2 linked regions of the Homo sapiens genome follow. The protein of the gene in region 2 interacts with the protein of the main gene of each other region in a biochemical or structural test. Each region holds a gene or a part of one and is shown on either strand. Other genes may lie near its edges.

The links. Proteins that work in one complex are often made in the same cells at the same time.
Region 1: the proteins of CRP (region 2) and CFHR4 form a complex in vitro, tested with the Homo sapiens proteins (4 studies listed by IntAct, with this or other methods).

The regions. Positions count from the first base shown.
Region 1 is NC_000001.11:196,886,160-196,889,917, forward strand, and holds the start of CFHR4 (complement factor H-related protein 4 isoform 1 precursor), read left to right. Parts: upstream 1-1,892; 5' UTR 1,893-1,991; coding exon 1,992-2,049; intron 2,050-3,758.
Region 2 is NC_000001.11:159,712,902-159,716,659, forward strand, and holds the start of CRP (C-reactive protein isoform 1 precursor), read right to left. Parts: upstream 1,689-3,758; 5' UTR 1,585-1,688; coding exon 1,524-1,584; intron 1,238-1,523; coding exon 624-1,237; 3' UTR 1-623. UniProt on the Homo sapiens protein: Displays several functions associated with host defense: it promotes agglutination, bacterial capsular swelling, phagocytosis and complement fixation through its calcium-dependent binding to phosphorylcholine.

The sequences.
Region 1 (3,758 bases), about 37 Mb from region 2:
GACTTTTAATGTATAAAATTCTGTTATGATTTTCTTTAAAATGTAATATACACCTGTAGTGACCTGTTTTATTACTAGCATTGTCATAAATGCTTTAGTATAAATGAATTAAGAAAAATGCTCTTAAAATAGATTTTGGGGCTTATCGGGGGAAACCAGCCCCTGGCAATTCAATGTAGGTTCTTTTCTATTTCCCTAAGTGTCAGCTGGTCTGAGAAATAAAGGGAAAGAGTACAAAAGAGAGAAATTTTAAAGCTGGGTGTCCAGGGGAGACATCACATGTTGGCAGATTCCGTGATGCCCCCCAAGCTGCAAAACCAGCAAGTTTTTATTAGTGATTTTCAAAGGGGAGGGAATGTACGAATAGGGTGTGGGTCACAGAGATCACATGCTTCACAAGCCAATAAAATATCACAAGGCAAATGGGGGCAGAGCACCAGGACAAAATTAAAATTGCTAATGAATTTTCAGGCATGCATTGTCATTGATAACATCTTATCAGGAGGCAGGGTTTGAGAGCAAACAACCCGTCTGACTAAAATTTACTGGGCGGGATTTCCTCGTCCTAATAAGCCTGGGAGCACTACCCAAAACCAGGGCTTATTTCATCCCTTATCTGCAACCGTATAAGACAGACATTCCCAGAGCAGCCATTTCAGAGATCTCCCCCTAGTAATGCATTCTCTTTCTCAGGGCTGTTCCTTGCTGAGAGAAAGAATTCAGTGATATTTCTCCTATTTGCTTTTGTAAGAAGAGAAATGTGGCTCTGTTCTTCCCAGCTCTCAGGCAGCCAGACCTAATGGTTATCTCCATTGTTCCTTATTGTACCTTAAAATAATACATACCCCAAAACACAAGTTTAAAAAGATTGAGATATCAAGAATATGCTGAAACTTTTGTACTCAGTATGATCCATTGTGAGTTATCAAAATCAGTATGCTACTCTAAACACATGAAAATACAGACAGTGGAATGGGGTCCAGACATACTGGTTTGTTTTCATACGATCCTTAAATAATTAAGTTGGGTATTGGGAAGCAAAGGACGATAGAATATTAAAGTAACATGGACCCTGAGAGATATTCATTTATGATTCATCTGCTTGTGGAAGAACTTCAAACAATTTTCCAGTCTTTAATTTTAAAATTAGTGTTCTCGTTGTAAGAAGAGTATGTGTGTGATAGGAGATAGTATTATGACCATTTGTGGAAAAAAAACAACCTACCATGCTCAAACAGCAGGATTTTCAGAAGTAGAATAGTGTGCCAGATGTTTATTTTCAACGTGATGTCAACACGGCTCCTATCTTCATTTTCTTCTCCATTGCAGAAGATAAGTCTGAAACTACAGTTTCTGAAGCCTGTTTCTCCATAACTTGCTTCTTCCTTAGATTCCCCCATGAGATGTACTTAAAGAAGACTTGGAAGAAGAGAAAGACAAGGCATTATCTGTCAGCAGCTGCTGGTAGCAGCTGAGATCACCAACAGTAGCTTTCCTTGCTTCTGGAAGTTTTCCTGAGAAACATCCACTGCAGCACCATGGATAATTAGTGAGGGCATCACTAAGATTCCTGAACTTCAGAATTTTCTGGAAATAGCATTTCTGACCTTTGTCCCTCAATGCTTCCAATAGTTGCAGAAGCCTTTCATTCCCTGTATTAAAACTCTCTTTACTTAAAAAATAAGAAATAAAAATGAATTAATGTTTTATGTTACTTTTGGAGTTGGTCCATTACTGTCACTAAATAAAGCTGTACATGTACATACCAGGGAATCAATTCCAGAGATGATTGTGAAACCACTAACAAGAATCATTGAAGCATTTTGCAAAACTCTCTGAACTTTGATATTTACTAAGTGACCTTAAAGCCCTAGCTTTGTGGTAGTGCACTTAAATTCAGAATCACACTTGGTAACTAATAATGAAAGATTTCAAACCCCAAACAGTGCAACTGAAACTTTTGCATTACTATACTACTGAGAATATCTAACATGTTGTTACTAATCAATGTCATTCTGACCTTGTGGGTTTCCTGTGCTAATGGACAAGGTAAGTTGAAAGAGATCTAAACACTCAGCTTCCCTCTTAAATGTAACTTCGTGTAATATCTAACTTCATATGTCTATAATTTTTTTATAAATCTGATAGGATATATTCACTATGCTAGCAGAAGTAGCATATTTTGTGAGAGTATAACAGAAATTAATTTTATGAAAAAATATCTCATAATTTAAAGAAAAAATGAATAATATTTTCTTTGTTTTACAAATTCTACAGTGTAAAAAGCATCTAATATTCATTATGGAGATATATGAATATACTCATAAAACTTTAAGTAGGAAACATGTCATTAGATAGATTCTAACCTTAAAATGTTCAGAATTTTCTTATTCATAATACAAGGGAAACTTTGGGAGTGATTGATACTTTCATAATCTTACATACAGTGATTTTTTATTGATTCATATATCAAAACAGCAAATAAAATATTTTAAATTATGCCATTTCTTATATTTCTATTATACCTTAAGAAAGCTGCTACATCTAATTAACATTAATATGAATTTAATATTTCAACAAGATTAGCAATATGTAAATCACAACATATATGTAATCAAAAAGCAGAATATATACTTAACTTACATTGGAATGACAGTAAATTTTAATTTGCATTTCTGAGTTCACTAGCAAATGTTCAATAAATAAATACATAAATAATTTTCATAGCTTTATGTCATTGTTCTCTGATATGTTTTCTCCTCGATAGTCATGTATTTTCTATATTAACTATCTCTTTGAATGCAGGCCTTGCATATTAAAGAACTATATTGTATGTAACATTAGCAGTGGAACCACATGGGTCAAAAATCATGGACAATCAAAGGTGTGTCACCATTAATGAAGAAAACAAATTTTATAATTATCCAAAACTTTATAATATTCCAACAAATGTAATGGAGGATAATATTGGAAATCCCACTATCAATTATTGAGAGTATCTTTTCCCTCAGCCTCTCCTCTCAAAGCTATGCCACTTTATTTGATTCTAAGTAAACAGCTTTAGGTTTTACAGTATTATCTATCACATGATTCGCTAGTTTTAATTGCTGTGCAAAATCAACCTTGATTTGTGCCAAAATGAAAAAAAAGGAATTTCTCTTGTTATTCCCTTTGTTAACTAAACTGCTACAGGCACATTTTTTAAAATAAGGATTACATAGATTAAAGTAGAATGCAAAGCAGAAAAATAGAGAAAAACAGTACTATTTTGAAATGACTGAAATTAGATTAGAATAAGCTCTACTTTCTTAGTTACTTTCTCAAAAGCAGTATAAGAAAAGAATGCTGACAAATTCTTTCTTATTTGATATTCCAGTTGAAAACTTTTCTCCTCCAATGAACTCTTTGTAAGAGTAAACTTGAGAAAAATGTCTTGTAAATTTGGGTCACACCTATATTTCTCAAAGGAGAAAGTAACTCATTTAGTGGAATAACATCTTGGGTAGTGAGAAACATCTTTGTGAATTCAGTAGCATTGGCTCAACTGCATCCCTCCAAAATTTATTTGTAAAAGTCCAAATTCCCAATACCTGAGAATGTGACTGCATTTGAAGAAGGAGAGCTTAAAGATGTAATTAAGTTAAAGGTCAATGATTCAGGTGGGACCTACTCCAATATAACTGGTGTCAATAAGAAGAGAAAATAAGGACACACCATATAGAGAAAGACCACGTAAGGCATAGAGAGAATACAACCAT
Region 2 (3,758 bases):
AATTCTAATGGCCTTTCCAGTGTGCTTTGAGAAAGTGGAGGGACTGCGTGGTATTGCTGGGCTTCCCATTTCAGGAGACCTGGGCCCAGCAGTTCTATGACATGATGATGAGCACTCTGGACCCAAACCAGACACCTGGCCAGTGTCCTGATTCTGAGACTGAAGAGCCCTGTGAATGTGGGCAATGCCCTCCTGCTTTCTGGGGGTCATGGGTGGGGAATTAAATAGAAGATCAGCGCTTCCTTCTCAGCTCTTGCCTTATGAGTTTTTTATAACATCATTTCTCCTTTCTGGGTGTTAGTTTTCTCATCTATGTGAGGTAAGAAATTATCTCCAAGATCTGTCCAACTTGAAATAAAAATGAAAACAAAACACCTCAAATTCTGATTCTTTTGGACCGTTTCCCAGCATAGTTAACGAGCTCCCAGACCAGACACTTTACCTCCATTCTCAGGCGCTGAGGAGGGTGGAGCAGGCCTGCAATGCATATAGGGGAACAAAGGCCCAGAGACAGAGACGTGGGAACCATGCAGTGTAAAAAAGCGGGAGGTACCAGAGACAGAGACGTGGGGCCCATGCGGTGTAAAAAACCGGGAGGTACCTTCAGGACCCACAGCTGGGCCTCAGGGCCACAGCTGGGGTTTGGTGAACACTTCGCCTTGCACTTCATACTTCAGTGCCCGCCAGTTCAGGACATTAGGACTGAAGGGCCCGCCAAGATAGATGGTGTTAATCTCATCTGGTGACAGCACAAAGTCCCACATGTTCACATTTCCAATGTCTCCCACCAGGGACTGGCTTCCTTCAAAGTTCCCACCGAAGGAATCCTGCTCCTGCCCCAAGATGATGCTTGCTTCTGCCCCCACAGTGTATCCCTTCTTCAGACTCTTCCTCACCCTGGGCTTCCCATCTACCCAGAACTCCACGATCCCTGAGGCGGACTCCCAGCTTGTACAAATGTGTACTGGAGCTACTGTGACTTCAGGAACCTCGAATAATATTTCAGACCCACCCACTGTAAAACTGTATCCTATATCCTTAGACCAAAATATGAGAATCTCATTGTCTTGTCTCTTGGTGGCATACGAGAAAATACTGTACCCACGGGTCGAGGACAGTTCCGTGTAGAAGTGGAGGCACACAGTGAAGGCTTTGAGAGGCTTCGTTAACGGTGCTTTGAGGGATACATAGGAAGTATCCGACTCTTTGGGAAACACAAAAGCCTTCCTCGACATGTCTGTGAGCCAGAAAAACAAGCAAATGTGAGAGGTTTCTCAGATCACACAGATCTATCCCCTCACTTACGTATAGAATTTAAGATTGAGAAACAGACTGACCCCTTCTCCAGTTACACACCACACACACACACACACACACACACACACACACACACACCATGAAGGATGCTCCACTGTTCTGTTCATACAGTCTTTTTTTTTTTTTTTTGAGACTGTTCATGCAGTCTTAGACCCCACCCCCATACCTCAGATCAAATCTCTCCCATAGCCTGGGGTGGCCCTTACCTGTCTGGCCAAAAGCATGAGAGAGGCTGGTCAAGACCAAGAAACACAACAGCTTCTCCATGGTCACGTCCTGCTGCCAGTGATACAAGGGCCTGAATTCACTCCTTTGGAAAAGATGTATTCGGCTGAAAGTTCAGGGGCTAGAAGTCCTAGATCTCTTGCCTTAGAGCTACCTCCTCCTGCCTGGATTTATATCCAAAGCAGTAAGGGAGTTTGCGCCACTATGTAAATAATTTTCCAACATTGCTTGTTGGGGCAGGTGTCAGAGCTTCGGGAAGAGGGGAAGCAAAATTATTTCAGAACAGAGAAATCAATGTGAGTTATTTATTACAAACTCCTATGACTACTGAATTACCAATTCTTTATGACAGGAAAAATGAAGAAATCTCTCAGGGCTCCACTTTGGCTATCTATCCTGCGAAAATAATGGGAAATGGTAACATATTAAACGAGTGGCCATCTGGGTGCACGTGGTAGCTGCCTCTCCAACACCTACTTCAGCCCAAATCATAGAGTTTGACAAAGGAAATCTGACAGCTTCTGGAGATGGACATTATCACTAACCCCTTTCAATTTGCTTATTTACAGACTGGGAAATGAGGAAAACAAACATGCTCCTCCCAGAGCCATGGACACATTTTTTTATTATTATTATACTTTAAGTTTTAGGGTACATGTGCACAATGTGCAGGTTAGTTACATATGTATACATGTGCCATGCTGGTGTGCTGCACCCATTAACTCATCATTTAGCATTAGGTATATCTTCTAATGCTATCCCTCCCCCCTCCCCCCACCCCACAACAGTCCCCAGAGTGTGATGTTCCCCTTCCTGTGTCCAAGTATTCTCATTGTTCAATTCCCATCTATGAGTGAGAACACGCGGTGTTTGGTTTTTTGCATGGACACATTTTCTCAGCCAATTGAGTACACTTATTAAGAACTCTCTAGACATCTTGGCACTAAATGACGGCCCTGACAGTAAAAGTCCAGTAAAATGTGTGCCTGATCACAGACATAGCATTATATCAAAGTTTCTTCCAACATTTTTCTCTGAATATGTAAAGCTTCAGGCAGGAGTCAGGATAATCTGATTCTACTCTTTCCTCTATTCACAAGATTCAAGTAATCCCTCCACACTGTCTGTCAATCTTACTACAGTTCCCTACTTAACTCACTCTTCAAAATGACTATTATACTCCTTCTCCTTGCTCCTCAAGTCCCCAAAATCTCATTTATTCTTTCATTCAGCTGATGAACTCACCTTTCATTGAGAAGTTAGAAGCAATCAGAAAAGAACCACCGTATCCTTTGTAGTAGAGTCTTCTAGCCATTCCCTAACATCCATTCTCTACTTCTCATAAGAGAAGAATAACATTTTCAGTTGGGCGCTTGGTCATCCCCTCAAACACCAAATTTCCCAGCCCCCACTGTAGCTTGCAGTGATGATGTGATTAAATTAAGGCCAACGAGATATGAACAGAATAGGGACCATCTCTAGGTTGTGCTCTTTAAGAAAGGTATGTGCTTTCCCCTCCCACTTCCCCCTTTTTCCCTTTGACTAGTATTCAGTCATGATAGCAGGAGATGGAATAGTTCACTTTCAGGCCAGCAAGTGTAAGCTGCATGTTGAGGTTGGCATGGCAACAAGATAGATGGAGCCTGGATAATTGGGTATGGAGCCACTGCATCAGCTCTAGGCTGCCTACCTGAAAATTTACTTAAAGGAGAAATACTCTCCTCTTTTGTTAAATCACTGTTAACTCAGTCTTTCTGTTCTTAACACCTAACTGATATCCTTATATATCCTCCTACAACCCAATGTACCAGCCTTTCTGTCTTCCTCTATTAAAAGGGATGAGCTCTCCCTGTGTTACATCTAAGGCCAACCCTTGCAATTCTTCAGTGGATCCCAGACCCTGTCGACTATGCAAGGAATTTTGCTCCTATAGGTATCCTCTCTATCTTCTGTATTATTAATTTATTCATCTTTACTTGATCATTTCCACAAAACCATACTATAATATATTTAATCTTTTAGAGAAAGAAGAAAGAAAAGAGAAAAAAGGAAGGATGGGAGGGAGAGAGGGAGGAAGGAAGGAAAAGTTTACGTGGGTTGACAACCTCTATTTTCCATCTCCTGTTCCCTCCTCAATCCATGGAAATCAGCCATTGGCCTTCACCACTCTAGTGAAGCCAACATAAACAAACACCTCTCTCATTAAATCTAATAAT